3 separate regions of the Homo sapiens genome follow, and regions 1 and 2 are each reported to be linked to region 3. Evidence: microRNA targets listed by miRTarBase, many of them from high-throughput screens and not tested one by one. Region 3 holds a microRNA gene; each other region holds the end of a gene's coding sequence.

Evidence for each region. The annotated mature microRNA hsa-miR-505-3p reads CGUCAACACUUGCUGGUUUCCU and lies in region 3 at 6,153-6,174, shown strand. An mRNA with a match to its seed (bases 2 to 7 or 8) in the 3' UTR can be bound and repressed. Matches are read on the target gene's strand: a 7mer-m8 pairs with bases 2 to 8, a 7mer-A1 pairs with bases 2 to 7 and ends in A, and an 8mer does both.
Region 1: the mRNA of NABP2 is a reported target of hsa-miR-505-3p. The part of its 3' UTR that is shown has no 7-base or 8-base seed match.
Region 2: the mRNA of FBXO33 is a reported target of hsa-miR-505-3p. The part of its 3' UTR that is shown has no 7-base or 8-base seed match.

What each region holds. Positions count from the first base shown.
Region 1 is chr12:56,227,880-56,238,337 of GRCh38, reverse strand. NABP2 (nucleic acid binding protein 2) reads right to left here. Exons shown (of 7, transcript NM_024068.4): 7 at 8,484-9,324. The coding sequence ends at 9,125. It overlaps SLC39A5 (solute carrier family 39 member 5), which reads right to left and starts at 8,287. Exons shown (of 13, transcript NM_173596.3): 1 at 8,216-8,287; 2 at 8,043-8,098; 3 at 7,465-7,507; 4 at 6,777-7,134; 5 at 5,466-5,649; 6 at 3,352-3,514; 7 at 3,012-3,181; 8 at 2,638-2,778; 9 at 1,846-1,942; 10 at 1,592-1,756; 11 at 1,327-1,407; 12 at 998-1,188; 13 at 492-750. The coding sequence starts at 7,063. The coding sequence ends at 607. ANKRD52 (ankyrin repeat domain 52) reads left to right here. Exons shown (of 28, transcript NM_173595.4): 28 at 1-531. RefSeq lists a silencer at 1,215-1,433.
Region 2 is chr14:39,391,155-39,401,820 of GRCh38, reverse strand. FBXO33 (F-box protein 33) reads left to right here. Exons shown (of 4, transcript NM_203301.4): 3 at 1-645; 4 at 2,034-4,137. The coding sequence ends at 2,305. Among named protein-coding and RNA genes, the nearest start is that of FBXO33, 36 kb to the left of the region's middle.
Region 3 is chrX:139,919,668-139,930,333 of GRCh38, reverse strand. MIR505 (microRNA 505) reads left to right here and starts at 6,103; the gene lies at 6,103-6,186. All of the region lies in intron 1 of ATP11C (ATPase phospholipid transporting 11C (ATP11C blood group)), which reads left to right.

The DNA of each region.
Region 1 (10,458 bases), not on the chromosome of region 3:
CCACCATCCTGTGTGCAGGTGTGTGTTGGGGGGCACGGAGGGGCATGTTCCATGTCCTGTTGCACCCTCCACCCTGTGACCCATGTACTCGGTTGTAGGAAGTAAAGAGAACTGAGCACAATTCACTGGATTCTAGTGGAATCTTTCTCTAAGCAATTTTCCCATTCCTGCCTCTCCCTGCCCCGGAACCACCTGTGGTGCTAGTGTTGGGATCGGGGGCGTTTAACGCTGGTGGGCAGCAATAAGGGGCAGATGTGCCCAGATGCCTGCATCCCCAGGGTGCCGAGGGCAGCAGGAAAAAGTGGGGACCTCGGTGCATTTGCCCCACCCCTCCCCTCCCTGGGCTAAAGCACAATGTTCTCCCCGCAGATTAATGACCCTGCACCCTCCAGGCCCCTACTCACATCCTCCCCCAACCGGCTTCGGGTCCTCCCACCACACTCTGGTTTTCTATGCTGTTTTGGTGCAAGTACAACTGTCGTAGTCATGGCTTTGGGATGGGTTCTGTTTATTAAAATCCTATTGCTCCTACTGGCCCTGTGTCCCGCCTCCATTCCTGTGGTTGGGGGGAAGGAAGGGCAACCCGACCCCTTTCCACTGGCCCCATCAGCCCTCAGTGGTCACGGGCAGTAGCCGCTCCTCCAGCAGGGTTATGGCAAGCATGAGGCCGCCCCCCAGCAGCAGCCCCAGCCCCTGCAGGAGCACATGGGGCGTAGGCAGGGGCTCCGGAGGACGAAGCAGGGCTGGTAGCTGAAAGAAAAAGAGGATGTCAGGATTCTGGCCTTGCCCCTGACCTCTCAACTCCAGAGGAATGGTGTCAGAAAGCATCAGCAGCCCCCACCCAAACACCTTAGTCCCTTGTTTCTCAGACTTTTGCGGGCCTATGGTCTGACGCCCTTCCAGGAGCTAATGGTAGAGGCGGAGGGACTGCTACCTCCCTCTCCACTCCCGCCTCCCCACTGCCCTTGATTTCTCTGCTCTACCCGACATCTCTCACCATGTCCACAAGGGCCACATAGAGGAAGACCCCAGCAGTGACCCCAAACACCCAGGGAGTGAGGGGGACAGGGCCCAGGCTGAGCCCCACCCCCAGGACTGCACCCCCCAATCCCAGGGCTCCAGACACGAGGCTCAGCAGCAGCAGCCGCCGAAAGGACAGCCCTGACTGGAGCAGCATGGCAAAGTCACCTATTGGAGACAGAGGACAGGATGGGAGGGAGTAAGCTGGGGTGCCCCTCATCCATGCCACCCACCAGCCTCCAAGCTCTACCCCTTGGAGCTATCTCCTTTCTGGAGTCCACCCCACCCTGCTCCTGCCATTCCTACCCAGTTCGTGGGGCAGCTCATGGCAGAAGACCGCTAAGGTGGTACTGAGGCCGCTGGAGAAGCCATCAGAGAAGGCAGCACCTGGGGCCAGCAGGGTCGGAAGTTGTCAGTCCAGAAGAAAAGTCTCCTCAGAAGCAGGTTCCTGTGTTCCGTGGTCCTCCCGTCCTCTCCCCATCTTCCTGACGGCCCTCTCCTAGCCCCAGCTGATAACTAGGAGCCCTGGCCTCCCCTCGGACCTGCTTCCCTCCGTTCCCACCCCTCACACCTATGGCCAGCCCATCAGTGAGGTTGTGTAGACCATCTCCCAGGAGGACCATCCACGTGATATCAGTGCCACCCTGGTGCCCATGACTGTGGCCTTGGTGCCCAGGAGGGGCCAGAGCTGGTGGGTGCTGGCTGTTCTTCTCCCTCTGGCCCTGAGCCCCTGGCTCTGCGGGAAGAAGCACAGGACAGTGTTGGTGGCTGCAAGTAAGGACTGTGAGCTTGGAACCTACTCTTCAAATTTTCTCCTCTAGTCACCTGGAGCTGCCTGTAGGGGCTGAAGGGCCATCCCACTGCCATTCTCCGGATCCAAGTTGCGTGTTTCGAGATTCCTTCGTTTTCGCCTGCAGCATCTCTGAAATAGGAGGGCATCCCTCCTGGTGGAGGAGGCAGCAGAGCCAGGGACTAAGGGGAAGCCAGGCCACAAGCTGGGAAGATGAACACCTGGTTCCACCTCTGGCACCTGGGATGTTCTTTGGCCTCTACCTTCTTCCCAAGTTGGCACCTCCCCTCTGTTTCTTGTTGACTTGAGCTCAGAATAGGATGCCATTTGGCCAGAAGTCCTGGGTCTGTGCTTAAGGAGCCCCTACCCACTCCCTGTTAGCCGATAGGTCCTGCACACCAGGCAAATGTCAGAGATCCAGGAGCACACACTGCTCCTCATCTCTTGGCTTTTTGGCCCAGTTTTGTTGTTGTTGTTGTTGTTTTTGAGATGGAGTCTCGCTCTGTCACCTGGGCTGGAGTGCAGTGGTGCCATCTTAGCTCGCTGCAACCTCCACCTCCCAAGTCAAGCGATTCTCCTGCCTCAGCCTCCTGAGTAGCTGGGATTACAGACACGCACCACCACGCCCAGCTAATTTTTGTATTTTTAGTAGAGACAGGGTTTCACCATGTTGGTCAGGCTGGACTCGAACTCCTAACCTTGTGATCTGCCCGCCTTGGGCTCCCAAAGTGCTGGGATTACAGGCGTGAGCCACCGCGCCCGGCCTGGCCCAGTTCTTGACTGGGACTCTGGTCTCAGCAGAAGGAGGAGAAAAGGGTATCACTCACTGGCCTGAGCCCTCGGTGCCGCAAAAGCCCCAGCATGTTCTCCAGCACAAAGAGCAGGAAGAGGCCTCCGAGCACTGACAGCCCCGGGCCCAGGTCCTTCTCTGGTAGTCCGCCAGGTCCTGCGTGCCGCCCTTCTTGTGCCTGACAGAGAGAAGGTCAGGGCAGACTCTGGAAGCCCCTATACCCAACAACATCCCCTTGCATGGATTGTGGCAAGCCTTCGCTCATATGCTCTACTAGAAGGCAGCTGTGGGCTGAAGCCAGGATCTGGGAGTAGGATATGGGAGCTGATGGAAAGGCGGAGGGGATGTCCTATGGCTGGGGACACCTTAGATCCATGGAGGCCAGGGGTACAAGGAAGGGGCTTCACATACATGCGGTAGCAGATGTAGCAGTGCATCCCCACAAAGAGTGCCCACCGCCAGGGCCCCCAGGAAGCCCAGCAAGGGCCGTAGTAGACGAGGTCCCAGGAGCCGCAGCAGCAGCAGGGATAGGGGAGAAGGGAGGCTGAGCAACAGGACTGCCAGGGCACTCTGAAGCAGGGCTGGGGAGAATCAGGGGCTGAAGTTAGGTCAGGGCAAGAGGAGGGTCCCACACGTAAGGTGGAGCAGAGAGAACACTACAAGGAGAGGCAGGACCCCAGTGAGCCTCCTTTTTGGCATGGGCCCCACTTCCAGGATTCAGGGTGTCCCCCACCCACTCCTACTTGCTGACCAGATAGTAGATCCCCTGGGGGTGCAGGGGCCGGAGCGCCGATGCAGACGCGGCTGTCGATCTGATAAAGCAGGGCTGGGCACAGCAGAGCAAACTGACGAGGGGTCAGAGGAGCAGCGGGGCTCAAGCCAAAATTGACCAGCAGCTGGGAGCCGTTCAGACACTGGAGAATTGAGGGTCATACATTGGAGAATCACCAGGAACTATGACTCAGATCTTTAACACCTGGCCAGGTGTAGTGGCTCACACCTATAATCCCAGCCCTTGAGAGGCCCAGGCGGGTGTATCATCTGAGGTCAGGAGTTTGAGACCAACCTGGCCAACATAGTGAAACCCTGTCTCTACTAAAAATACAAAAATTAGCTGGGGATGAGCCGGGTGCGGTGGCTCACGCCTGTAATCCCAGCACTTTGGGAGGCTGAGGTGGGTAGATTGCCTGAGCTCAGGAGTTCGAGACCAGCCTGGGCAACATGGTGAAACCCTGTCTCTACTAAAATACAAAAAATTAGCTGGGCATGGTGGCGTGCACCTGTGATCCCAGCTACTCAGGAGGCTGAGACAGGAGAATCGCTTGAACCCAGGAGGCAGAGGTTGCAGTGAGCCGAGATTGCACCAGTGCACTCCAGCCTGGGCGACAGAGTGAGACTCCATCTCAAAAAAAAAAAAAAAAAATTAGCTGGGGATAGTAGTGAACACCTATAATCCCAGCTACTCGGGAGGCTGAGGCAGGAGAATTGCTTTAACCCAGGAGGTGGAGGTTGCAGTGAGCCAAGATCACGCCATTGCACTCCAGCCTGGGTGACAGAGTCAGACTCTACCTCAAAAAAATATATATATATATATTTAACACCTGTCCTTCCATTGCATAGACTCCTGGGTCTCTCCCAGGGTCCCCTTTGCTCCTACTGGCAGGTACCTTGGGGACTAGGGCCAAGGGTACTTATAATCAATGTGTATTATTAGTGAATATTCAGTCCAATGCAGGTATTCAATTTGATGCAAACTGGGTGCTAGTGAGCATTGTCATCATCTTCCCTGCAAACTCTGATCATTTCAATCATTTTGTTGATTTGATAAATGAAGCTGGTTGGAAAACTAGAGCTCTCCATGCCAGAATCTTAAAAGGGAAAAGACCCTGAAATGCCATCTAATCTCCCTCTCAACAGCCCTGTCGATGTTCATCCAGCCTCAGCTTGAATGCTTCCTGCAATGGGCACTCACTGGACCTCCATCAGGGTTAGGCAGCTTTGTCTGCCCTCTGGTGTAAGTGGAATATATTCTCTGTCTTTCTGGATGAAGACAGCCATCCATTCCCTGCAGGTCTCCTCTCCAGGTGACCATCCAGATCCTACCCTGGGCTGCTTCTCTAGATTCTCTGCTTTGCCATCTATTCCCCTAAACTGAGTCTTGGAGCTCTGGATATGGGCTCACCTGCTCTGATCCCAGAGGGAACATAGTTCACTATTGAAATAACATCCCCTAAGACCACAGTGAGATATTTTTTTTTTATTTTTTTATTTTTTTTATTTTCATTTTTGAGACAGAGTCTCGCTGTGTTACCCAGGCTGGAGTGCAGTGGTGCAATCTCGGCTGACTGCAATCTCCGCCTCCTGGGTTCAAGTGATTTTCCTGCCTCAGCCTTCCGAGTAACTGGGATTATAGGCATGTGCCACCACGCCCAGCTATTTTTTTTTTTTTTTTTTTTTTTTTTTTTTTTTTTTTGAGACAGAGTCTCCCTCTTGTTGCCCAGGCTGGAGTGCAAATGGTGCCATCTTGGCTCACTGCAACCTCTGCCTCCCAAGTTCAAGCAATTTTCTCACCTCAGCCTCCTGAGTAGCTAGGATTACACACACCTGTTACCACACCCGGCTAATTTTTGTATTTTTTAGTAGAGATGGGGTTTCACCATGTTGGCCAGGCTGGTCTCGAACTCCTGACCTCAGGTGATCCACCCACCTCGGCCTCCCAAAGTGTTGGGATTACAGGCGTGAGCCACCACGCTTGGTCCACGTTGGGATTTAAAAACAAAACAAAACAAAAAACTACTGATTATTTAAACATTTCAGGCCATCTAATCCCATGGCTCCTTCCCCTCTAGAGACCGTCAGACTCACATCCTCATTCAGGTGGTCAGCCAATGAGTGGTCCAGCAACAGAAGCCTGTGAAGGAGGTCCAGGCCCGAGGGGGCTGGCCCACGGGGTAGGTGAGGGGCCTTTGACTCTTCCAGGTCACCCCACCCTGAGGGACCCAGAGGCATCCCTGCCCAGACATCCACACTCAGCTCAGGGTTCTGTGGCCTGGAATGGATGAGACAGCAAGTCAGCCTCCCTTGTGTTCTCTATCAACCCGCTTTGAGAGGCTCCCAGGGATTTTAGGGGGAATGGGGGGACTAGCCACTGACTGGAGATCCTGGGACCCAGAAACCATGGAATGTCATTCTTAGGAAGATCTGTGAGTTGTCCATTTTCTGCCACTGGGGGGGACAGAAAAAAAAGGACGACAACCAAAAGGGCTACGAATGGCTGGGCACGGTGGCTCACGCCTGTAATCCCAGCACTTTGGGAGGCTGAGGTGGGTGGATCACCTGAGGTTGGAAGTTCGAGACCAGCCTGACCAAAATGGTGAAACCCCGTCTCTACTAAAATTGCAAAAATTAGCCCGGCGTGGTGGTGTGTGCCTGTAATCCCAGCTACTCAGGAGGCCGAGGCAGGAGAATCGCTTGAACCGGGGAGGCAGAGGTTACAGTGAGCCAAGATCACACCACTGCACTCCAGCCTGGGCGACAGAGCGAGACTCTGTCTCAAAAAAAAAAAAAAAAAAAAAAGAAAAGAAAAGAAAAAAGAAGTCTACGAATTTGGAGCCAAATCAGCCCAGAGACACTGAACAGTGATACTAAGAGCAAGAAATTTAAGGGCTTAGAGATTTGGAGGAGGAGAGAATTAGAAGGCAACGGAGGGCTAGGGTGGTAGTTCACATCTGTAGTCCCAGCACTTTGGGAAGCTGAGGCAGGCAGATCGCTGAGCTGAGCCCAGGAGTTTGAGACCAGCCTGGGCAACACAGCGAAACCCTTGTCTCTGTAAAAAATTTTTAAAATTAGCCGGCTGTGGTGGTGTGTGCCTATGGTCCCAGCTGCTCAGGAGGCTGAGGTGGGAGGATGGCTTCAGCCTGGGAAGCAGAGGTTGCAGTGAGCCGTGAATGTGTCACTGCACTTTAGCCTGGGTGACAAAGCGAGACCCCCAGTCTCAAGAAAAGAGAGAGAAGGCAATAGAAGCATGAGAGGTTTTGAAGAGATACCAAGGAGCTCGGTTCTGAAGAATTTGTAACTCCAGGGATCTCGTGAGGAAGCCAGAACGAGGCAACTGGGGGCAAGCACTGAGAGGACCTGGGAGATGTGGCCCTGTGGAGTGGAGGAAGGGGTCAGTACCTGTGTGTGGAATTGTCTGCAGCTGGGGATGCAGCCCGTCCAGTCAGAGGCCCATGCTGTCCCAGGCGAAGCCCCTGAACTCGGCCTAGCCCCAGGCTGTGGAGAAGCCGCGCCAAGCCCCCTGCAGTCAGCGTCCCATTCTCGCCGTACAGGCCAAACAGCTGGGCCAGGTAATGGTTCTGCTCCTGCTCAGCAGGGCCCAGGTTGGGGACTGAGCCCCCTACCCAGCCCAAGACGACCCACACACAGAAGCCGGCCAGCAGATGACTCACTGGGGACCCCATCATTGGTGAGGGGAATAGCTTAGGGGCTCAGGTTCTGGCTCCTATTCTCCCCGAAACATCCTGAGGACTGTGCCCTGGAAGAATGAGGAATGGGCTGGAGCTGCGCTCTGCTCTCCAGCTCAGGTCCATGGGGGAGCCAGAGCTCCTTGCACCTGCTCCCCACCGAGTCCAGCAGCAGCCCCTACTGCAGCCTTCTTTCTCCCTTCACACTGCCTCCTGCGGGAGCAGCCTCTTGTTTGCTGGTTCCTGGAGCACCTCCCTGAGTCAGAGCTCTCCTCATACTTCATCCAGAGCTGACCGTCCATTCCTTGTCCCCTAAACCCCACCCCTCAACTTTGCCCCACCTCTTTATCCCCCCTCAATCCCCAGGGCCTCACCCCTACTGGCAACATAAGAGCTGTCACCTCAGGTCCCCTATTAGGCCTTGCTGTAGACGTTAAGCAGTTCCTGAGTCAGGGAAGGGGGAATCCAGGCTTAGCCTCCAGGTGTCCAGGTGGATCGGAGGCCACGTCACATAGAAGGCTGAGATGGACATGCACCCCCTCCTAGCCCACCTGCCTTGGGGCGGGGTCAGGGGTGGGGCCAGTGTGTGAAGGCTCACATAAGAGAGGAGTTAATGGTTCACTGGTCTCTGGGGTAGGGATCAAAAGTCAGTCTCTGCTGGGCCCCTGGGTAGGGAGGGGCCACCCTCTGCCCTGGGAAAGCCACATGGCTAAGGAGAACCTGGGCCTAGTCTTTTTCCTCTTAAATAATTCACCCTATCCTTAACACCATTAGTACCATTTTAGCCCTTTCCCTCATGTACTTCCACCCCACCTACCTTACAGTCTAGCACTAAACTTCATCTCCAACCCCCATCCCCATATTCCTTGGGAAGGTTGGACCCAGGTGTCCCTAACCTGGGGAGGAGGGGGGAAAAGGCAGATCAGTGGCAAGCCCAGATGCATGCATGGGAAATAAACTGTTCTTAGCAGTTTCTCACCCCAAGAAGAGAAAGAGCCAGAGCTCTAGGGATCGATGACCAAGAAAGGGGAAGCCCTGCGGGGGGAGAGGAAACAAGGATCTGGGCTCTCCTCTGATGTCTGACCTGGCCTAAAATCAGGCAAGCAAAGTCTGATCGGGGTGACTGGTCCAGGGGGTTGAGGTTGGCATTACCTGATAGCAGGAGACAAGGACACCCAGAGGAAGGGGGACACAACCTTCTTGGTTCCAGCTGGGGGGGCAGGCAGGCAGGCGGGCAAGGGTCACCTGCAGGGAGGGGGTAGGGGAGGGACACTACCTTAAAGGGGCAGGTCTGCTTTGCCTGGGCCTCCTTACCTGTAACCTATTTTCCTTCCACCTTCTAGGGACACCCCACCTTCCCAAATGCCTAGTTGCTAACCTCTTCCTTTTCCCACAGAAAGCAAAGGAGTCCAACACAGAGTAGAGTGGTAACATTTATTAGGAAGGAGAGACTTCAGTTAGACTCCCATGTCTCACACAGAAGAAACAGATGGTAACTGCCATTTCTTTCTTTCTTTCTTTCTTTCTTTCTTTTTTTTTTGAGATGGAGTTTCGCTCTTATTGCCCAGGCTGGAGTGCAATGGTGCAATTTCGGCTCACCTCAACCTCCGCCTCCCGGTTTCAAGAGATTCTCCTGCCTCAGCCTCCTAAGTAGCTGGGATTACAGGCATACGCCACCATGCCTGGCTAATTCTGTATTTTTAGTAGACACGGGGTTTCTCCATGTTGGTCAGGCTGGTCTTGAACTCCCGACCTCAGGTGATCCGCCCACCTCGGCTTCCCAAAGTGCTGGGATTACAAGCGTGAGCCACTGCGCCCAGCCAGTAACTGCCATTTCTAAAGAGGAAAGAGAGCAGGCAGAGGGTCCTGACTCCCAGGGGACAGGTAGTTCAGCTGGACAATGAGGGAGTATGAGATTAGGGTGGATAAGGACACTGCTCACCACCCTCCACTGAAGTTCAGTGGCTAAAATACTGCTACACCAGCCAATCAGTGGAAGGCTATCTTGCTCTCCAGGGGACACTTGGGATGTGGTTGGTGGCAGGAAGAAAGAATGTCATGCTATCTCTTGCTGCTCCTCCGGGTTTCTTTGCCGTTACTAACAGGGTTGCTGGAAGGGCCAGGCGGGCCTGCAGGTGTGTGGTTGGGCTGGCTTCGAGTGATTCGGGTGCTGGGTGGGTGGGAGGGAGTATGAGGGGGATGTGGGCCACCACCGGGACCTGGTGGGGCACTCAGTCCATTCCCATTCTGGTTCTCAGAGGCTAATTGTGGGAGGAGAAGAAACAAAGGAATTAGTTAACATAGGAGAGGGGTCCATCCCAAGGCCTGTCTCCATGCCCCAAAGAGTGGCACAGTCTTCACCATGCACAACTGCATCTTAATGCCAACTGGACCAAATGCAAAAGACTGTGGGCTGCGAGTATGAATGGAGCTCCAGAGAAGACTTACACGATCATTTAGGAAGTTGCTACATGAACCTCGGTACGGTATTTTTCTCTTGTAGTTATCTCACTATTATTGGGAATCAGACCTAGAATTAGCTGTTTAGTTCTAGGCTCAGGGACCTCTGACAAAAATGCCCCTTTACTGGGCCAGGCGTGGTGGCTCACACCTGTAATCTCAGTACGGTGGGAGGCTGACGCGGGTGGATCACGAGGTCAGGCATTCGAGACCAGCCTGGCCAACATAGTGAAACCCCGTCTCTACTAAAAATACAAAAAATTAGCTAGGTGTGGTGGCAGGCGCCTGTAATCCCAGATACTCAGGAGGCTGAGGCAGGAGGGTCGCCTAAACCTGGGAGGCAGAGGTTGCAGTGAGCCGAGATTGCACCATTGCACTCCAGCCCGGGTGACAGTGTGAGACTCCTTCTCAATTAAAAAAAAAAAAAAGGCCCCTTCACCAAAAGTGATTATAAAACTGGAGAAGCATGGCAAGGGGAAGGGCCTGAAGTCTCTGCGTTAAAATATGAGGCACTTAAAAAAAAGGTGTGTATGAGTGTACGATAATGATAATGTTCATTTTAGAAAATATAGATAACCATCAGTGAAAAGATTATTATTATTTTTTATTTATTTATTTTTTTGAGTTGGAGTTTCGCTCTTGTTGCCCAGGCTGGAGTGCAATGGAGCGATCCCAGCTCACTACAACCTCCGCCTCCCAGGTTCAAGCAATTCTTCTGCCTCAGCCTCCTGAGTAGCTGGGATTATAGGCATGAGCCACCACGCCTGGCTAATTTTGTATTTTTAGTAGAGATGGGGTTTCTCCATGTTGGTCAGGCTGGTCTTGAACTCCCAGCCTCAGGTGATCCACCCACCTCGGCCTCCCAAAGTGCTGGGATTACAGGCGCGAGCCACTGCGCCCAGCTAGTGAAAAGATTATTACACGTAATCTTACCC
Region 2 (10,666 bases), not on the chromosome of region 3:
AACTGAAATGGCTGTCCTGTGGGTTTATGCTGGAAATAGTAACCCCAACATCACTGTCATCTCTCTCTAATGCTGTTGCCAACACCATGGAGCACCTCAGTTTACTGGACAATAATATTCCTGGTAACAGCACTCTTATTACTGCAGTTGAACTGGAGCGATTTGTGAATCTGCACTCACTTGCCTTGGATTTTTGTGACTTTACAGCTGAGATGGCAAGAGTCTTAACTGATAGCAACCATGTGCCTTTGCAACGACTGTCTCTTCTGGTTCACAATGTTTCTGTAATGCACAAGTCTCTGGACAACATGCCAAATGATGAGCATTGGAAAGCCCTGTCACGAAAGAGCACCAGCTTTCGGGTCTATATAATGGCTTTTGATATCAAGAGTGAAGATATGTTAAAGATTCTGAAACCCAGTATACCACTAGAGAGGATTCATTTTGATAGCTATATCACTTGTGTTTCAGGGGCTATTGTTGATCTTATATCCAGGCAATATGACAAGTTCCTCACTCATTTTATTTTAATGAATGATGTGATTGACACATCTGGTTTTCCAGATCTTAGTGACAACCGAAATGAAGATCCGTTGGTTTTATTAGCATGGAGGTGCACAAAGCTCTCTCTTCTGGCAATTCATGGTAGGTGATCTTGTTCATTGTAATCTGATACTGGAATTAGACCGAAAACATTTTCTGCCAGTAAAGAGATAGCACTGACCTTTATAGTATCAAGAAATCTTGTATCAAGTTGATATACAGATTCTTATGCTTTTTAAAGTTTGCAAGATATATCACTTACAAAAGGAAAATCATATTCAAACCCAAGTGTTCTGCTCCAGCTTCCCTGTTACTTTTTTGTCCATCATGTGAATGGCAGTATTTCATAAAAAATCAGTGAAATTAATTTAGCTAAGAAAGCACACATACCTGTGGTAGATATATTTCCTCTAATCACACGACCCCTTAAAACATAGTGCGGGGGAAGAGAATGTATGATTTCTTTCATGCTCACTACCTCATCTTTTAGATTCTTGGTATCAAAGTATTAATGTATATAATTTTTTTAACGATGGTTCCATTGATATGCTTCTTTCATTTTAATGTGACCTGTTCTCATTTGGATCTAGAGTTGGTATTCTGACAAATAAATTTACTTCCTTTTCGGATACTTGTAAGATAATTACAAAGTAGTCTATAAGAATGTCTTAAACTCTCTTATTAGCTATCCTACTAGCACTGTTTCATTATTTTTTTTTTAGTGTGCATTTGTATTTGGGAATGTATGCCTTGCTTTTCAAGTCTTGCTTTATGCCAGTCATCAGAGGTAGCAGAAAAGACTAGATCAATACTGAAAGTGCTAAACACAATGGGCTAAAGACATATCAGGTTATTTAAAAGTTAATTTAAGCCAGTCTTTTTAAAGCCTTTTTCTTCTTTATGCTAAAGCTCCCCGTATTCATTCCTCTTTATTCCTTCCCAGAAGTAGTTATTATTCTGAAGTTGGTGCATATCATTCACATGATTGTTTTATAATTTACGTATTTGCTACTGACAATTAACAGTTTACCTTTAAAGTGTCACTACATAACTTCGCAAAGCATTATAGGAGATGATTTTTCACAAATGAAAAATACATTTACCACGTGTGGTTAACAGATACATGCATATATGAACTAAAAATTTCATCCTTATGGTACATCTTTACCCAAAGCTATAAAATTTATTTGTATATACTTTAAATGTCTATTTTACTGAATGAAGTAGTGTCATAAAGGATTAGATCACCTGCCAATTCACCACCTATAGCGGTAACTCTTGAACACAACTTCTAGCCTTTTTTTTTCTGGGCTATACAACCATGTTTCCTTTTCCAATTTCAATATATTTCTAAAGGAAAAAGACCAAAACGGTAAGTGAGATACAAATTTGAAGCTTCTCTAGAAGCTTTGAATGAGGAAAAGACAGACTTACCAAAGAGAAAAGGAAATGCAAGGAAATTACAGTGTTGTCTTTTGTTTATTTTTCAGGTTACACGGTGTGGGCACACAACCTCATTGCCATTGCTCGTCTTCGGGGCTCTGATCTGAAAGTGCTTGAAGTCACCGAAGAAAGCATTGATTTTGACCAAGGTGAACTGGCCGACCAGGATGTAGATCCAGTGCATAACCTTATTGAGCAGGTATCCCTGGGCCTGGGTCAACCTTGGCATGCAGTCATGGACATCGAATCACTCAGTGTCTTCACTGAACCAAATCGTCATTTTTACAGAGAGATGCAAAGCTTCAGTGAAGACATTTAGCTTTTTTTTAATGTAGAATTCCTGTGGTTACATATGCAAGTAGGGTCCTATTATGTTTTTTTTTCAGTAGTGTGAATTAATCCTTTTGTGCTGTGTTTAATCAGTATTAGCTTTATAGAATTATATATGTATATTCTACTTCTTGATCAAAGAACGTAGTCGGGTATTGGTTTAGAAGTTCAAAGTGACAATGTATAGGGCTTTCACGGTTAATGGACTTGTTACCAAACCTTAAGGATATACAGCCGAAGATTGTCTGAGGTTGCTGGCTAACTTTATTTTTCACTGAGTTACTCTGCCTTTTTGACGTTTTTATTCTTTGTGTGTCAGAGTTCAGAGCTCAGGAGCCAAAATATTTTTATACATATATAGATATATATCCATAGCCTGGTAGATTTATATGCAATGCACTGCATCCATGCATTCTGATAGCATTTCATTAATTTTGATTTCAAATGGAAGATAAATAATATCCCAAATGAATTATCTGTAACAGAAAAGCCAAGACTTTAACTTTCATTACATATCTAATAGTTGATATCACCAGTTACCATTTTGAATTTTGTATAGTACTAGGTTAGAACATTGCTTAATCCTTTTAAAAAAAATGCATTTACGTAAACACGAATACTGAAATTGTTGGATTTTTTAACTATATCTGACATAATTTTATTCATCAATTACATTACACATTCATTTAGCCCAGATTTCAAATAGTGGGGGAAGAAAGAAACTGTATTTCAGAGTAAAATCTCCTAAAGGAAATAAAAACACAGAGTTGTAAATACACATGCTTGCAAAAACATTAGTCGTGAAATCCCTAGCAACAAGTCACTGGATTTTTCTCTGTCAGCACGCGTGTCAGCTGCCAAAGAATAGACTTAATGAAGAAGTGCCCACATGCTGGCAGGGGCCGGCCCACTCTGGCCAGCCAGATACTGCTAGATTGTAATATTTAAGGTCGAATTTCGACCTGTGGTACACAGCTGTGCTGTGGCTCAGTCAGCAACCTCAGAACTCTGAAAAAACAAAACAAAAAAAAAAAAAAAAGAAAAAAAAAACATGCACCTGTTTCACTGTGAATAGTGAATGTAAAGGAAAGAAAGGAAAAACTGAAAGCTTGTTCTATCACAGGTATGAGCTGCTATGATACATGAAGAACATTCCATGAAGTATGTTTTAAAACCTTGTTATATCTGAGAGGCTTTAAAAGCCTATTAACTGTTTCAGGGCAACCGCGGTACAGACGTGGTCTCTGTGAGACTTCCACCTGACCCCAGTTTTAAGTGGTACGAATGTTGTGCATTTAATGTTAAAGGACAGTCTGCAATAATAAAGTAAGTAGCCAACCTGGGTGCCCAGCAGTGCTGAGACCTGGCTGCTCTATTGTAAGCTTTGGAAACACAATTTATGCAACAGATGTCCAGATATGATTCTATTTATGGAAAAAAGTTTATATGTGTTTTACAAATGGTTTTACCATCTTATATTAAAATGACCTTTTGACAGGTGTGCACTGTTTTGTCTCCAGTGAGCACATACCATGCGGATTTTATATGTACATCAGTAGTGTGAATCCACTGGCACAGTGTGTGTAAATGCCAGATGTGGTGAGATTTTATCTTATAAATGTGATCAGATAAAATAACTCCTGACAGAAACTGTAAGGAAACCAGCTGAATGTTTGACCTGATGACTGATGTTGTATGGTTTATGTTAAATGTATATTCTTTTAATCAATGAATAAAGCATTAAAAATGATCATTGTAATATATTTTATTGTATATGAAGCATGACTACTTTTAGTGTTAAATAAACTGCAATAATCCTTATATTGTGTATAATAATGTGTTAGTATTCTGGTTGTATTCTGGTGCAGCAAAGCTTAAATTTGAGATACATTATAAAAAGTCTTAGCTGAATAGTTTGGAAGATTTTTTTACAGAAATTCACTTTGACAAAATACAAGCTTAAAAGCAAACAAACACTGGATTTCTTAGCACAAAATCTCAGTATATTATGCACCTAGAATACATTACATTATCAATATGGTAAAACTTAATTTATAGACTAGAGGGGCTGCTTTTTTAAAAGAAGATTCCTATACCAAATGCAAAAATACTTAGATATGCCAATATTAAATTCTTCATAAACCCCTATATTCCTTTATTTATTTTGGTATTCTGATCTCTGTTCTTGGTTGTTGAGACTCACAGCTCTTATTCATAGGAAACAAAAGGACTTCTTTTCTTCCTTCCATCTTCCCTTCCTTATCATTCCAGACATTGACTCTTCCAGGCACTGCTTTATCTTGGAATAATCTGGTGTTCACAAATAATTGTCCTTATACTTTTTACTTACCACTTCGTTACTTTCCTGGACACATCTGAGTCCTTTGAATGAATCAACATGTTTAAGTATATATTTAAGACGTACCCAAAATGTACGAAAAAGGAAAGTCTACTAATATGAATAGCATGCAAGTTAAGGTTATTGTAGTAAAGCTCTAAATTTGGGAGGCTTGACATCTGTTTTCTAGTCTAAGCTCTGGCTCTACTTGAGCACAGACTCCTCTTTCAGCTTTGGTTTCCTCATCTCTAAAATGAAGGATTGGTCTTGGCTAGCTAAAACTCCGATTCTTCATTGAAATTTTCCATTGCTGTTAGCTCAGTAGCTCACAGATACACAAGATCATCTTTAAACCAAGGTATTAAATATTTTCAAAACATAGCTTATTAAACTATATGAAATTTACATATCTATCTAAAATTACTTTCCATTTCCCCACCACAAAGATGCAGAAATTGAACACAAAGATGGGGAAACTTGCTTGGGACTTAGAGCATGAGTCATATTGGATCCTTATGAAGCCAGTAACATAACACAGTGCTAATGGAGTAACACAGCAGATGTGAATAATACCCAGGGACCATACCACATTGTATCAATGTTTCCCAACCTTTGTCATGTTGTAGCACACATAGAAAATATTGTACAGCATACTGGTATAAACCAGAAAGAATTAGAGAAAAAAATTACTTTTTTTAAATTATATAATTGATGAAAAAATGTAGAAGATTTGAGGAAAAATACTGAATTTGTATGGAACTTTCAAATAAAATCTTGCCAGATGTTTTAATTGATTTAATTGACATTTGATTAAAATGTTTTAATACTGTCACCAATGAGAAACACCCCACAAACAGGTAATAATTTTTAGGTCTTTTTTAAAAATAACCATTCGTTAATTTATGCAGTTGAAACTAAGAAATTTAACGCTTCCTTCTTTGGGAAATAATGTTGTGAGTTAAGTTCAAATTCAAATTGATGTTTATTACAATTATTTTAAAATCATGATGCTCTAATTTGTAATCTCCCTTACATAATCCTACTGCTAGGTGAGACACCACTGAAGAGTAAACAGCCACCAACTTTATATATATGTGAAGGCAATTAGAGGCTGCAGGGAGCCCTCCTCCCACCTCCAGCTCCCAACCCTTTCAAATCCAACTAGCCACACCTGGGGGCCTCACACTTGGGCTTCCTTCCTGCTCTTTGGACACCTGGAACGTATTTCTTTCACAGCTTTGTAGACGCCCCCCCCCCCCCCCCCCCCCACCCTTTTCTGTGATGGACAGTGACTCATCTGGCTAGGAATAGTGAGTATCTGAGTTTGCTCTCTGTCCAGGGCCTACTTTCAGAATCAGCTCCACTCCCACTGCTCAGAAGAGCCTGAAAGCATCAGAAGGCAACCAACCCAGGCTCCAGCCACCCCAGGACTCATTAGGTGTCCTTGCAGGGTATCACCCCTGGTACAGTATACTAATTAATTTGGTTTGCTGGTTGTGGAAAGAAACGGATGATGTATTATGAGTAAGTTTTCAGGATACTTGAATCATCCTTTCTGAAAGATTTTTTTAAAAGGGCAAGATATACCATGTGTTGGCAAGGAAGAGGAAACACAGGTGGAACTTGAACTGATATATCCATTTTGGAAAGCAAACTTGCAATATCTTGTAAAGTTGAAGTTGCCTGTGCCCTGTAACCCAGATTTTTCACTTTTAGATGTATTCTCTAATCCCATGTTTTCTAACTTGTTTTCCTAGCCCCTAAAAATGTACCCCTTTGCATATTTTTAAGTTAAACATGTAACATTGGTCATAATCTTAGCAGATATAAACATCAGCAGTTTAAAGTAAATTACATACATGACTTCTTAAAATATGTATAATGGAATCTAAATGCTATAGTAATTTAGTACTTACCATCTTTTTTTTTTTTTTTTTTTTTTGGACAGAGTCTCACTCTGTCACCCAGGCTGGAGTGCAGTGGTGCGATCTCAGCTCACTGCACCTTCCATCTCCTGGGCCTACCAAGTAGCTGGGACTACAGGCCTATGCCACCAAGCCCAGCTAATTTTTGTATTTTTTTTAGTAGAGTTGGGGTTTCATCATGTTGGCCAGGCTGGTCTTGAACTCCTGACCTCATGCGATCCTCCCACCTTGGCCTCCCAAAGTGCTGGCATTACACGCATGAGCTACTGCACCCAGCCTACTTACCAACTGTTTTTAAAATGCAATTCACTCACTCTTGATCACTAGAAATTTTGTCATTCATTTTCCTCCTTAAGCTTGTATATTGTCAGTTATCAGTTTATTTGCCTTTTAGCTCTGAATGAATCCTTCAATATATACTCTCTCATAATGAAAAACAAAAAACATTCACACCCTCTTCACAAGAGTGCTTACCTATGAGGCAGGCATGAGGACAAGGATCAGTGTGGATGGGCATGAAGGTAATTTTATCTGTAATGGGGCATTCATTATATTATTTTGTTATTTCCTATTTTAAAAAATAATTTGTAATTTACTGATCCAAGTTACAAACAAATGAATGTTCATGGACTGACTTGTTTCATAATGCTGAGTCTAAAGTCAACTGTTGTAGTCCATTTTGTGCTATTACAGAAGATCTGAAACTGGGTAATTTAGAAAGAATATTAATAATTGATTTCTCACAGTTCTGGAGGCTGGGAGGCCCAAGATAAAGACACCAACAGGTTTGGTGTCAGGTAAGGGCCCTATCTCCACCTCCAAGATGGCACCTTGAATGCAACATCCTCCGAAGCAACAGTGTAATCTCACATGGCAGAAAGAGAGCTAATCTACTTTTGTAAGCACTTTTTATAAGGGCAATAATACATTCATGAGGGTGAAGCCCTCATGACCTAAATAAACTTCTCCCATAAGACCCCACTTTCCAACTCTGTTGTATTGGGGACTAAACTGTGAATTTTGGAGGGGACACATTCAAACCATAGCAGTGACCAAGGCAGGAGGACAGAGTATTGCTTTCTATCCTTTCATGCATTACTGAATCACAGTAACTTGAAAGAGGCTCAAAGATCTACTGAGAGCTTAAGACCTAGTTGTTTGTAGGAAAGTTCTGAATAGATTTTTCAAAATATGTCACTGTGTGGGGGAAAAGGGGAGATACTGGTCAAAGGGTACAAACTTTCAATTATAAAATTCTGGAGATTTAATATACAGTATGGTGACTACTGTTAATAATGTATATTTGAAATTTGCTAAGAGAGTAGATCTCAGGTGTTCTCACCACACCAAAAATGGTAACTATGTGAAGTGATGGATATTTTAATTAGCTTGAGTATTGTAATCATTTCAGTATATATATATATGAAAACACATTGTGTACCTTAAATATATGCAAGTTTTGCCAATCACACCTCAGTAAAGCTGCAAAATGGCACTGTAATTGACTCTACCATATTTCAGTTTAAAGCACTATTGTCATTAGATTAATACTTATTTAATGTGGACATTATATCCAACAACCTCAGCTATTTGAAGTGTAGCCAAGGATCCAGAAATAAGTATAAAAGACTCGTGGAGCTGGATTAGTCCCTGACTAATGGGTAAAGGTGTCACACTCAGAAGAGCCATTTCCAATTCCTGCTAGCTCACTTTGTCTTATTTTCAGCATAATTCTAATAAACCTGTTCATCAGGTTTCTCAGTCTACAGTGGGTTAGAAAGGGAAAGGAAGGGGGTGACTGTGAAAGGCATGCAAGCTTACACATGTGAAAGCAAGAGCATAATCAGTCTTAGGCCATTTTGGAGTTTGAAACAGACTTCAACACCCCTATAACAAACCTGAACTACAGGGCAATGGTAAGTATTTGTAATGAACTTGAATCAATATGAAAATTACACTGTGTTCAGAATATTGGCATAAATTAATGGAGCATTTAATACATTTTGGAAATATTTCTACTGAAGATGGCTAAAATAATACTATATATTTAAAAGACTAGCCTTTAGCTAAAAAATACACACTTAAGGCCGGGCGTGGTGGCTCAGCCTATAATCCCAGCACTTTGGGAGGCCGAGGCAGGCGGATCACCTGAGGTCAGGAGTTGGAGGCCAGCCTGGCCAACATGGCAAAACCTCATCTCTACTAAAAGTACAAAAATTAGTCGGGCGTGGTGGCGGGCAACTGTAATCCCAGCTACTCAGGAGGATGAGGCAGGAGAAGCTTGAACCCAGCAGGGGGAGGTTGCAGTGAGCCGAGATCGCACCACTGCAAAAAAAAAAAAAAAATCACTTAAGTAAATTCTCTGAGAAACAATGTTGATAAATAGACTAAGAAATACCATAACTTATATGTATTAAATATTTACTGTGTGCAAAGCACTGTTTTGAGCATTTGACAAACAAGTATTTTGTCATTTAATTCTCACAGCAACCCTGGAGTAGATATCATTTCATTTCACATATAAGGAAATAGGCATAGAAAAATTAACAATTGTGTCTAAGTTGTAAAACCAGTAAGAGTTTGGGTAGAATTTAAACCCAGAAGATAGAACTCCTACATTACATGACTTTTATCCTGCTGATCCTAAAGACTACGATTACCTTACTATTAGGTAGATAATTCTATTTTTCCACTTAGTTTGTAAAATTTACAGATATTAAAGCTCCATCCATATTCTCCATGTACCAGTATTCTTGCTGTATTTCTTGAAGTGCATTAACTGCCCTTGGTATATTTATCAGTATCACCAAATCTATGGAATCACAAAGCAACAGAATAATCATCATGTAGGTGTATGAATTTATGCCTAACACATCTAACATACAAAGTGTGTGTGTGTACTATATAACCTAATCTATGCGTATAATTTTATTCTAATTTTTAATAATACATAATTGGCCAGGTGCAGTGGCTCATGCCTGTAATCTCAGCACTTTGGGAGGCTGAGGCGGGCGGATCACAAGGTCAAGAGATCGAGACCATCCTGGTCAACATGGTGAAACCCCCATCTCTACTAAAAATAGAAAAATTAGCTGGGCATGGTGGCACAAGCCTGTAGCCCCAGCTACTCGGGAGGCTGAGGCAGGAGAATCGGTTGAACCCGGGAGGCAGAGGTTGCAGTGAGCCAAGATCGTGGCACTGCCACCAGCCTGGCGACAGAGCGAGACTCCGTCTCAAAAAAAAAAAAAAAAAGAATACATAGTTGGTATGTGATGAGCCAATTGTTAGACAAGATAGCTCTAAAATTAGAATAGGCACTGCACTATAGTTGTAATTATTTCTGAAAGCTTAAGAACTACTCAACTGAGATGACATTATTAAAGATTTTCAAGTGGTTTTAGTTTTAGTTTTTTATTTTTTTTTGAGACAGTCTCACTCTGTCGCCAGGCTAGACTACAGTGGCACGATCTCAGCTCACTGCAACCTCCACCTCCCGGGTTCAAGTGATTCTCGTTCCTCAGCCTCCAGAGTAGCTGGGATTACAGGCACGCGCCACCACACCCAGCTAATTTTTTTATTTTTAGTACAGACGGGCTTTCAACATGTTGGCCAGGATGGTATCAATCTCCTAACCTCTTGATCCGCCCACCTTGGCCTCCCAAAATGCTGGGGTTACAGGCGTGAACCACCACACCTGGCCTGAAGTGGTCTTACACATAATTGTGGTCAATATATAATTGTGGTCCTTTATAAATATTATCTTGGCTATATTTGTGGACCCAACAAATAGAAGACATTTTTTAAAGGCTAATTAATTTTATAATTTGTTAATACCTGAGCTGACTGAATTGATCATGTTTTCCACTAAATTAATAAAATCAACAGACTATTTTCGCATCGTATCATCCACAGGTTATAAAGTTGACAGATCAAACTTTTTCAGATCTACATAGTTACCTGATTTTTTCTCCAAAATAAATTCTCTTTTGACATAGTAGATTCTTTGATAATATATAACAGTTATACTATAATCTTACTAAAACATATAAGTTAGACTTTAAGATTTTTTTGCATGGATTTAAAGACA
Region 3 (10,666 bases):
CAAGTATTGGTCTAAAAGCCCATTGCTTCCCTTTTGCGAAAAGTGATCTGCATCGTATCAGAGTCTAGTAATTAAGCAGTGCTGGCCCAGGAAGCCAGGGCATGCAGTAGAATTTGCAGCAGTTGTTGAGGTGCCAGCCTGCAGGTTTGAGGCTAGTACTTTGCATCCCCGACCAAGATCTCAGCAGAGAATCACTTTTGCTAATACTGAAATGAGCTTTGACCTTATTGTTGCAGCTGGAATATTCAGCTGTTCACATTTTCCTGCGCAGCCATGACTGTGGTAAGTATCAGGAATTTGTACCAGTGCGGTAAGCTGGAAGGTTCTTAGGAGTTGTGTCTGAGCCCTAGGCCCAGGGCAAGGAATTAATCTGCATACCGTTGGACTGAATGTGAAAATTACTATCAAATAATCATTGCTAAAAAACGGCTTCAAAATTTGGGGGAGGGGGGCAATTTTTCCATCTCTTAGATCAGTAAACCATGCGCTGTTCTCCTCTTTTGCCTGACAAATTCTTTGAGGGGTACTTCCATTTGAATTACTAGAAGACTAGAATTAAAGATTTGAGTGGAACTTTGAGACTTTCACAGCAGTATAGATGTAGTCAAGGTTGTGAGTTGTCTTATGATTGTTTTAATATTTTAGAAATAGAGCTATGAATTCCTTTCAAAATGAGTTGTTTTTTTAGTGTACCTGTACGTGTCTGATATTGGTTTTGATTGTGAAATAAATTACAGTGGTGTTGATTGTAGTTGTTGGTTATTGAAAACTAGACTACATATTAGAGAAGTGCTTCCTTTATATTTTAAACCTGACGTGGAAGAATCCCTTAGGATTCTTACAAGCATCATCTTCTATAGCTCAGTTGTGTTTGCTGAATCATTTTTGAAATGCCATTTATTTTTCGAGTTTTCCAATTTCAAGCTAAAAGAAAATAGTGATTCATTGTATTTTTTTAAATACATGGTCTTGACTTCTTTGCCATTAATAACTGTGTTCCTTTCTTTCTGATGAATTATGACTTTCCTTTTGACAGTTTTGAGGTGGAAAGAAATTGGTGGATTTGGTGTATAGCATTTTAGGGTTGAGGCATGTAGAGGGTGTCCTAAAGGATTTAAGAGTTGGATGTCTCTGAGTGCAATAAAAGCACCACCTGTTCTCAAGTCAACATCTCCATAAATACAGTAAATAAGTAATAATAACTCTGTCTGTACAATTTATTTTCTTCAAAGGCATATTTAATCAGAAGTCTGGACTAGTTGAGATTTAAGGGTCATGGACTTTTATGTTATCCTGTCTTGTTTTATTCTTAATGCAATTCCTAGTGACTATAGTAACGTGTTCTCTTGGGTTTAAAGATTTATTGAAAGTCTAAAAACAATTCCCCCCTCTTTTTGGCTTATGAAATTATTTTATACTAAAGATTCAAAATAAGAGATTTCTTGATAAAGTAGGTTGGGGGCTTGGTCAAGAGGATGCTGTCAGTTTAGCTTGTCAGTGATAGTTAACAGGTATGCATTTCTAGACCTTTGATACATGAAAGCTTAATTGTGAGTGTGAAATACTGGAGTACATTTAAATCTCTGATTCTAGAAGCCCTTAAACTGCTTTGGTTTCATAAAGCATGTAGCATATAATCATAATATCACACAGAAGATGCCCAGGACTAGGAAGAAATTAGACTGCATAAGGAAGAATGGAAATTTAAAATAAGACTAAAAAATACAAAATAAGAATTAATGAAATAGGTAGCTAATTTATTGCTTTGAGTCCAAGGCAAGGCTAGTCTAATGAAGCAATATATGGAGGCAATTAAGAAAATAGTTCAGGTAATTGCTTTGTTTTTTCCCCAGGAGCAAGAAGGTTTTTAGTTTCCCCTTTAAACTATCAGAGTAATTAAACATTTTTTTTTTTCTGTTTCACTTTACTAATAATCCTGGCCTGACATTGACGAGCGGGAAAATATTGATTTTATTTTACTGTGTTTAGAAATATATCTGTATGTATGTATTGCAATATTTTTACATTTGCACAACTATTACAAATGGTCTGTGTATCTCGGCTCCCACATGGCTGTTCATAGAGGTCTAGGTTTAGCAGTTGAACTTGACCATACTTAAAAGCAACTTTTTTTTTTTAAATCATATTGTGTTATAATTGCCTTTTAACTTGTATGGCTCCCTAGTCTTTCTCAACATGGAGAGAATTGGCACTGATGCCCTAGGACATGCATTGTTAGTAATAAATTAACATTTTCCTGCGCAGCTGGAGTGAAGGAACCCTAATTGAGAAAGGCTGTCCTAGACAGGGACAGTTCACAGTGTGTTCTTAGCTCCTAGCACAGTGCCTGGTCCCTAGTAGGTGTTCAGTAAAATATTTTTTGAAAGAACAACTTTTGTATGTATCCCATAAATAATAACCTTTACTTACAGATAGTGATTATTGTAAACCCGCTCTTATGCAGAATGAGCAAAGAATGAGTTCTTGTTAGTTGGGGTATACCGTATACATTACTAGTATTCTAAGAATTAGAATAAATACATCTAATGCCGAAAGCTATACTGACCATAGTATAATCTTTTTTTTTTTCCTTTTTTTTGAGATTTATTATGGGAATTGGATCATGCAGTTACAGAGGCTGAGAAGTCCCAGGATCTGCCATCTGCATGAGCCCGGCCACAAAATATCCCCTTCTTTTATTTATTTTTATTTTTATTGTTATTTTTTTTGAGACAGAGTCTTACTCTTGTCATCCAGGCTGGAGTGCAATGGCACGATCTTGGCTCACTGCAACCTCCGCCTCACGAGTTCAAGCGATTCTCCTGCCTCAGCCCCCCTAGTAGCTGGGATTACAGGCGCCTGCCACCACGCCTGGCTAATTTTTTGTATTTTTTAGTAGAAACGGGGTTTCACCATGTTGGCCAGGCTAGTCTCGAGCTCTTGACCTCAGGCGATTTCCCTACCTCGGCCTCCCAAAGTGCTGGAATTACAGGCAAGAGCCAGCATGCCTGGCCTCTTTCTTAGATGATTAAGGCATTGTATGGTTTTGCAGAGCAATTATCATTCAGCAAATATTCACTGAGCACCTACTATGTGCTGGGCACTGCAGTCAATCCTGGGGTCGTAGATGAGCAAGACAGACAAGGTTCCTGTCTTCCTGAGCTGTAATTATCATTACATACACAACTATAGATATAGAGGGCATGGTAACTGCATTGCATTGAATACATTTGTGACATACCATGAAATTTGATCTTTGTGAATAAGTTACTATTACATACTTGTCATTTTTCTTTCTACTAAAAATAGATTGTACAATATCAGTTATTTTCTGGTTGTTTGGATGTCAGTTAAAAAGGAGTTTCTTGCATTTGTCTCCTTTCATCTGACCTACGCATGGCAAACTGCTCTTTTGCAAATAGATGCTAGGCTGACCCCACGCAAGGTGGGAAACTTATTTAGAAATGAACCACTGTAACTTGAAATAAATCTTTACACAAGTGAAAGCAGGTTTTGTCTTCTTTTTTCCTGATCTACCTTTTAGTGACTAAGCAACATAAAACTCTGAATGTGTCCTGAATACTTTCTGTAAGTGTTTACTGTTTGTTCCTTTTGTTTATGCTTATTGCTAATAATTCAGCCATTTAGTGAGTAATATTGAGTGCCTATATACCAGGTAGTTTCCAGTGTTCCTAATTAACTTTTAGCTGAATTGAGATTTGGGCAGGTGAAGCTGGCCATTTTTATATTGATGCAACTGTTCAAAAGAGCTTGTTTTTTCAAAAAGCTGCCAGTTTACCACCTGCTGAGCAGTGGGTTCTAGGAGGTAAAGGATGGCCAGTGGCCCCTGAAAGAACCATAACTAACCTTGCTGTGTCTGCATGATGTGCAAAGAACTAGCCCACTGAGTGAAATCAAATACTGGTTTGTTGAGTGATGGAAAAAATCAAGGCTCATTGCTTGTCTAACATGGTTATTCAGTTCTCTCAAAGAGGGTGAATGCATGGGATATAAAAAAAAAATACTATTTTTTTCTTCAAGGTGGTGGAATTTCCTGTACATCTGTAGTGCTTTATACAGATGAACCTTTTACATCTGGAACCCTCGAGACTGGGGGAGTTTTTCTGGTTAGGTGGAGGGAGGTTCTGGGCTTCCACAAATGAATTAGGTGCTGGCTCTCGAGTTTATTTCCTTTCACTTAACATTTACCTTCTTGGCCTGGTATAAGGGTAGATTAGCGGTGATCGTAAAACAAAACATACTGGCACAACTGCAGCATATGTTAACACTGCTGCAGCTTAATGATGAATGAGTGCTCAGCACTGCAGATATGGGCACAGGATGCCCTATGCCCACACATTGGCAGACAGCCCCTCAATTATTGCAGTGTATGGACGGATTACTGGGTCGGCTGACTTCTTGATAATAGAAGATGTGATTTATAAATGATAATGGACCGTGGATTTCCAGATTTAGAAGGTTAACCTGTATTTGTGAAGTAGAAATCATTGATTTCTTGTGCCATATGTATTTAATGGAATATGGGAGGATTGGTGATGTTGATGATATTGCTGTTCAAGCAGATATCATCATTTGTTTTTTAGACGTCTCTATTATATGTTGTCATAAAGTATTAATGTGGCAATGTTTTCCTAGTCCCTTTCTCTTTACCAAGGTATTCTTGGAAAAATCAGAAGTGTTCTTGAAAATGATCTTGCAGTTAGCACAGCATCAGGTAAACAGTAGATGTTCAATTAATACTTGTTTAATTGTTTTGAGCTGAATTGGTAACACAGTCTGAGTCAGTAATAACAGATGAAGAATGATCAGTTTAGGAAGCAGCCACCAAGAAGCTTATGCATTTCAGACTGGGCTACAAAATTAGCCAGGAGTGGTAGCACAGGCCTGTAATCCCAGCTACTTGAGAGGCTGAGGCGGGAGAATCACTTGAACCTGGGAGGCAGAGGTTGCACTGAGCCGAGATCGTGCCATTGCACTCCAGCCTGGGCAACAAGAGCAAAACTCCATCTCAAATAATAATAATCCTGTATGCTTACTATAAATACAGATTCCTGGGCCTTGAACTTACTGAATCCAAGTCTTGGGTGACAGACTCCAAGAAACTGTTTTTAACAAGCATTCCAAGTGGTTCTTAGGTTCACTAAAATTTGAGAACAGCAATATATAATATAGTAAACACGGAAATATTTATTTTCTGGGCACACTCTCTGTTCACCTTTTTGAACTTCAGTTTCTTCATCGATAGAATGGGAATAATAATACCTATTTCACAAGACTGTTGAAAAAAACGTTTGGTAGACTATTCAACACTATACCAATTGTGACAGAGGTCCTCAAAACCGGCCTAGGTTTGTTGATTCACTGGCAGAACTCAGTACATAGAAACGCTTGCGGATGTGATTTATTATAGCAAAAGGATACAGAGCAAAGTCAGTAACGGGAAAAGGCTCATTGGGGCCAAGTCTGGAGGAAACCATGTGCAAGCTTCCAGTCCTCTTTCACTGAAATCACACAGGTCATGCTTAATTCCTCTAGCAAATGAGTTTTGACAACTTGTGTGAAATGTCTACTAGGGAAGCTTATTAGAGATTCAGTACCCAGGGTTTTTAGTGGGAGCTGGTCACACAGGCACCCTCCACCTGGTACACAGCAAAATTCCAGACCCCAAGGAGGAAAGCAGGTATTCAGTGTAAACCCTATTGTTTACACAGCTTAAGCAGAGTGAGCCACTCTTATCAGGGTGATGGAAACCCTCCCAAAATCCAAGTCCCCAGACACCAGCCAAGGACCAACCTTGCAAACAGGCCTTACTAAGAATAGCAGTGTCAGGCCTGCTATGTTAACTCTTTCCATCACGCAAATATTGTGAAACACTGGTATTTTTTCAGTGAAAGGAAATGACTTGTCCAAGATCATTAAGCTAATCAGCAGTACAGCTGAGACAGACTCCCAGCAATCACATCTTTTCTTTGCTGCCCATAGCCATGCTTCTAGATTATGGGTCATTCCTTTTCATACTGTCATTGAAAGCACTTACTGTTTGTCACTTGAAGCAGAAGAGCAGCCTGCCGGTGGTAAATTGATGCACCCAGTGGGGGAGCCAGGAAGTATTGATGTTTCTGCCAGTTTAGCGTCAACACTTGCTGGTTTCCTCTCTGGAGCATCGCCAAGTTCGTGGATTTTCATTTTTCCTGACTTTTGGACTTTTGTTACTGCTCCCATTCATTTGCTCATAGTCCTAATACTCATTTGCATCATCACTTCATCCCATTCTATACCTTTTGGGTAACACAATTTCCAAATGGTGGGAATACTGCAGTATTTTGTCAAAGAAGACTATATAGGAAAAAAAAAATTCTGAGCAATGAATTTTATGGCAATATTTACAAATATTGGTTTATATCCTGGATTGTCTTTTGAGTTTTATAGTCATGGAAAACCCTAGGGATATCTCTGGTTATTTGGAGTTTCAGCCATTTTTACTGTTATAAAGGAAAATTAACAAATTTGTTATGATTGGAGCAAGGAATAAGGAAATCATACTGGATGGTGCAGTAATCCCACATATCGACAGGGAGTAGAAGCCAGGAGGGAATTGCCACAAGTAAGTAACAGCTGGGTAGAGCAGATTATGTAAGCTACACCTGTTGTGTAAGCAGTGGGGACGTTCTTTAAGCTTCACAATTAATGTATTTTGCAGTAATAAGGATTAAGGGATCTATAGTATAGTGTACAATTTATTCTGGCTTCTTTTCTGAAAACATTCATGTGAATCACAGCTTTCTTGGAACACTCATCCCCTATTTGGTGCTGTAGAGGTGTGTAAGGTACAGCCCTGCTCACCAGTAGCCTGCAGTTTGGTAGAAGAGAGAGAAGACCAGCACACAGGACCATCCTCCACACAAGGCCAGTAGGTCACCAGAGCCATCCTTTTGAAGGACATACACAGTAAGTGCAGTAGGCATTCAGAAGGAGGCACTGGCTCTCTGGCTTCATTTCTTGGGGAGAGCTTTATGGAGGAAGTAGCCTGTCAACTGGGCCTCTGGGGACCCAAAGGGCTGAAGGTTCTGAGATTTTAGGGATGGGCAGTCTCATTACAGGAGGAGGCAATTACCTGAGCAATGGTGCAGGGTCATTGTTGTACTTAAAGCATGGGAACCAGTCAATTTAGAGAACATACATGCCAACCCCAAATGAGTTTGAGCTGTTATAAAAAAAAGTATAACAGGTGGGGCTCAGTGGCTCACGCCTGTAATCCCAGCACTTTGGGAGGCTGAGGCAGGTGGATCATTTGAGGTCAGGAGTTCAAAACCAGGCTGGCCAACATGGTGAAACCCCATCTCTACTAAAAACAAAAATTAGCCAGGTGTGATGGAGAGCACCTGTAATCCCAGCTACTCGGGAGGCTGAGGCTGGAGAACTGCTTGAGCCAGGGAGGTGGAGGTTGCAGTGAGCAGAGATGGCACCACTGCACTCCAGCCTGAGTAATAGAGCGAGACTCTGCCTCAAAAAAACAAAACAAAACAAATAAAAAGTATAACATAGATTCAGTGGCTTATGCACAACAGAAATTTATTTCTCACAATCCTGGAACTTGGAAGTCCAAGATCAGGATGCCAGCATGGTTGGGTACTGGTGAGGGGGCTTCACGTCGCAGACTGGTGACTTATTGTATCTTCACATGGCAGAAAAAGAGTGAAATGAGCTCCCTAGGGCACTAATCCCATTTATGAGGGCTCCACCTTCATGGCCTGATCACCTGTCAGATGCCTCACCTCCTAGTACTGTCACCTTGGAAGTTAGGATTTCCACATAAGAATTTTAGGGGAACACAAACATCCTGTCCATGACACAGCAGAAACACCAAAACCTCGATCTTCAATGCCTTACGTTTGCTGTAGTAATTTTGATTTTAAAAAAGGAGATGCTAAAAACAGGTGGCTTTAGGTCTCCACAACAATAGCTATAGGAATCTTCCCATACATAGATGCTCTTTTCTGAAACCTATGACTCCAGTAAATTTATGTCATTTAAAAAAAATGCATATATATATATATATATATATATATATATATATATATATATATATTTAGAGAAGGAGAGAGAGAGAGAGACAGTCTTGCTCTGTTGCCCAGGCTGGAGTGCAGTGGCACAATCTCGGCTCACTGCAACCTCTGCCTCCTGGGTTCAAGTGATTCTCCTGCCTCAGCCTCCTGAGTAGCTGAGACTACAGGCGTGTGCCACCACACCTGGCTAATTTTTGTATTTTTAGGAGAGACAGGGTTTCACCATGTTGGCCAGGCTGGTCTTGAACTCCTGACCTCAAGTGATCCACCTGACTCAGCCTCCCAAAGTGCTGGGATTACTGGCGTGAGCTGCCATGCCCGGCCTTATTTGGTGCAGAGACAGTAAGGCAGAGACCAGGATGAAATATATATTTGGGGTAATATATCATGACACTACTTCATATATTATTATAGGACTGCTTACTTAGTTACCCTGCTTAAATTATGGGTACACATTTCTGGTAACTTTCACTACACATGGGAGACAGGATGGCAGTTCATTTTCTTGAGTACTAGTGGTCATTTATTTAAAAAGCTGGAGATCAGGCCTTTTTTCAGGAGCACATTCCTTACCAACACATTTATAGTTCACTGCTATTAGATAAGAAAGCTTTTGATAGACTTTCAGATCTGACTGCATCATTCGGACTTACCAGAACATGAATTGCATCTCATTCCCTCTGTATTAGTCTATTTTCATACTGCTTTAAAGAACTGCCTGAGATTGGGTAATTTATAAAGGAAAGAGGTTTAATGGACTCACAGTTCCACATGGCTGGGGAGGCCTCAGGAAACTTCCAATCATGGCAGAAGGCAATTAGGACGCAAGACACCCTCACAAGGTGGCAGGAAGGAGAAGTGCCGAGTGAAGGGGGGAAGAGGCCCTTATGAAACCGTCAGATCTCGTGAGACTCACTCACTATCACGAGAACATGGGGAAAACCACCCCCATGATTCAGTTGCCTCCACCTGGTCTCTCCCTTGACAGGTGGGTATTATGGGGATTATAATTCAAGATGAGATTTGGGTGGGGACACATATCACCCTCATAACCAGTTCATCACGACACCATGCTTAGTCAGTGCCACTTTTCTTTATCATCATGACTGCCACCCTCGTCTAAGTCATTAGCATCTCTCCACTTTCATATTTGTTCCTCCTCCAGTTTTCCCGTTCAGTAAATGGCACCATCCCCCTCCTAGTAGCTCAAGCTAAAAACCTAGCAGTCATACTTAATACTAACCTTTCCCTTCATCACATTTGTCAGAGAATCCAGTAGGTTCTATTTCTGAAAATGCTGTCACATCCATCCACCTTTCTTCATGCCCACACCTACCACCATTCAAGTTTAAGCTACTGCTGTCATTTACCTGGACCTTTGCAATTGATTATTTTATTATCCACCTTTGCCCTCTCCTATCTGTCTTCCACACAGCTCCAGGGGGATCTTTTACAGACGCACACCAGGAGCACTTCATTGACTTTCGACTGATTTCTGGTTAAATACTTTGCTGGTATTGCTCTCTCTCTTTCACTTTTTTTCATTCACTTTTAAAAACTGAGATAATTCACCTAACATAAAATTCACCACTTTAAAGTATACACTTAAGTGGATTTAAATTTCCTATGCTGTGTAACTATCACAGCTATCTAATTCCAGCACATTTCCACTACCTCAAAAAGAAACCCCATCCGTTAGCTCTTAGTCCCAGTCCTCTATCCTTCAGCCCTTGGCAACCACCCATCTACTTTCTTATCTCTGGATTGCCAGTGGAATCATACAATATGTGTTCCTTTGTGACTGAATTCTTTGGTGTAGCATAGTAATATTTTCAAGATTTGTTCATGTTGTAGCATGTATCAGTATCAGTACTTAATTCTTTTTTTTTTTTTTTTGAGGTGGAGTCTGTCACCCAGGCTGGAGTGCAGTGGTATGATCTCGGCTCACTGCAACCTGTGCCTCCTGGGTTCAAGCGATTCTCATGCCTCAGCCTCCAAAGTAGCTTGGACTACAGGCACGCACCACCACACTCGACTAATTTTTGTATTTTTAGTAGAGACGGGGTTTTGCTATGTTGGCTAGGCTGGTCTTGAACTGACCTCAGGTCATCCGCCCGGCTCGGCCTCCCAAAGTGCTGGGATTATAGGCGTGAGCCACCGCGCCCGGACTCATTCCTTTTGAAGGCAGAGAATACTCCGTTTTATGGAGAGAGCACATTTTATTTATCTGTTCATCAGCTGATGGACATTTGGGTTGTTCGCACTTTTTGACTCTTGTGAAAAATGTTTCTTCGAACATTTTTGTCCTTTCTTTTTTATTTTTTTATTGAGACAGAGTCTCACTCTGTTGCCCAGGCTGGAGTGCAGTGGCGCCATCATGGCACATTGCAGCCTCCGCCTCCCAGGTTCAAGCAATTCTCCTGCCTCAGCCTCCTGAGTAGCTGGGACAACAGGCGTGCACCACCACACCCGGCTATTTTTGTATTTTTAGTAGATATGGGGTTTCACCATATTGGCCAGGCTTGTCTCGAACTCTTGGCCTTAGGTCATCCGCCCACCTTGGCCTCCCAAAGTGCCGG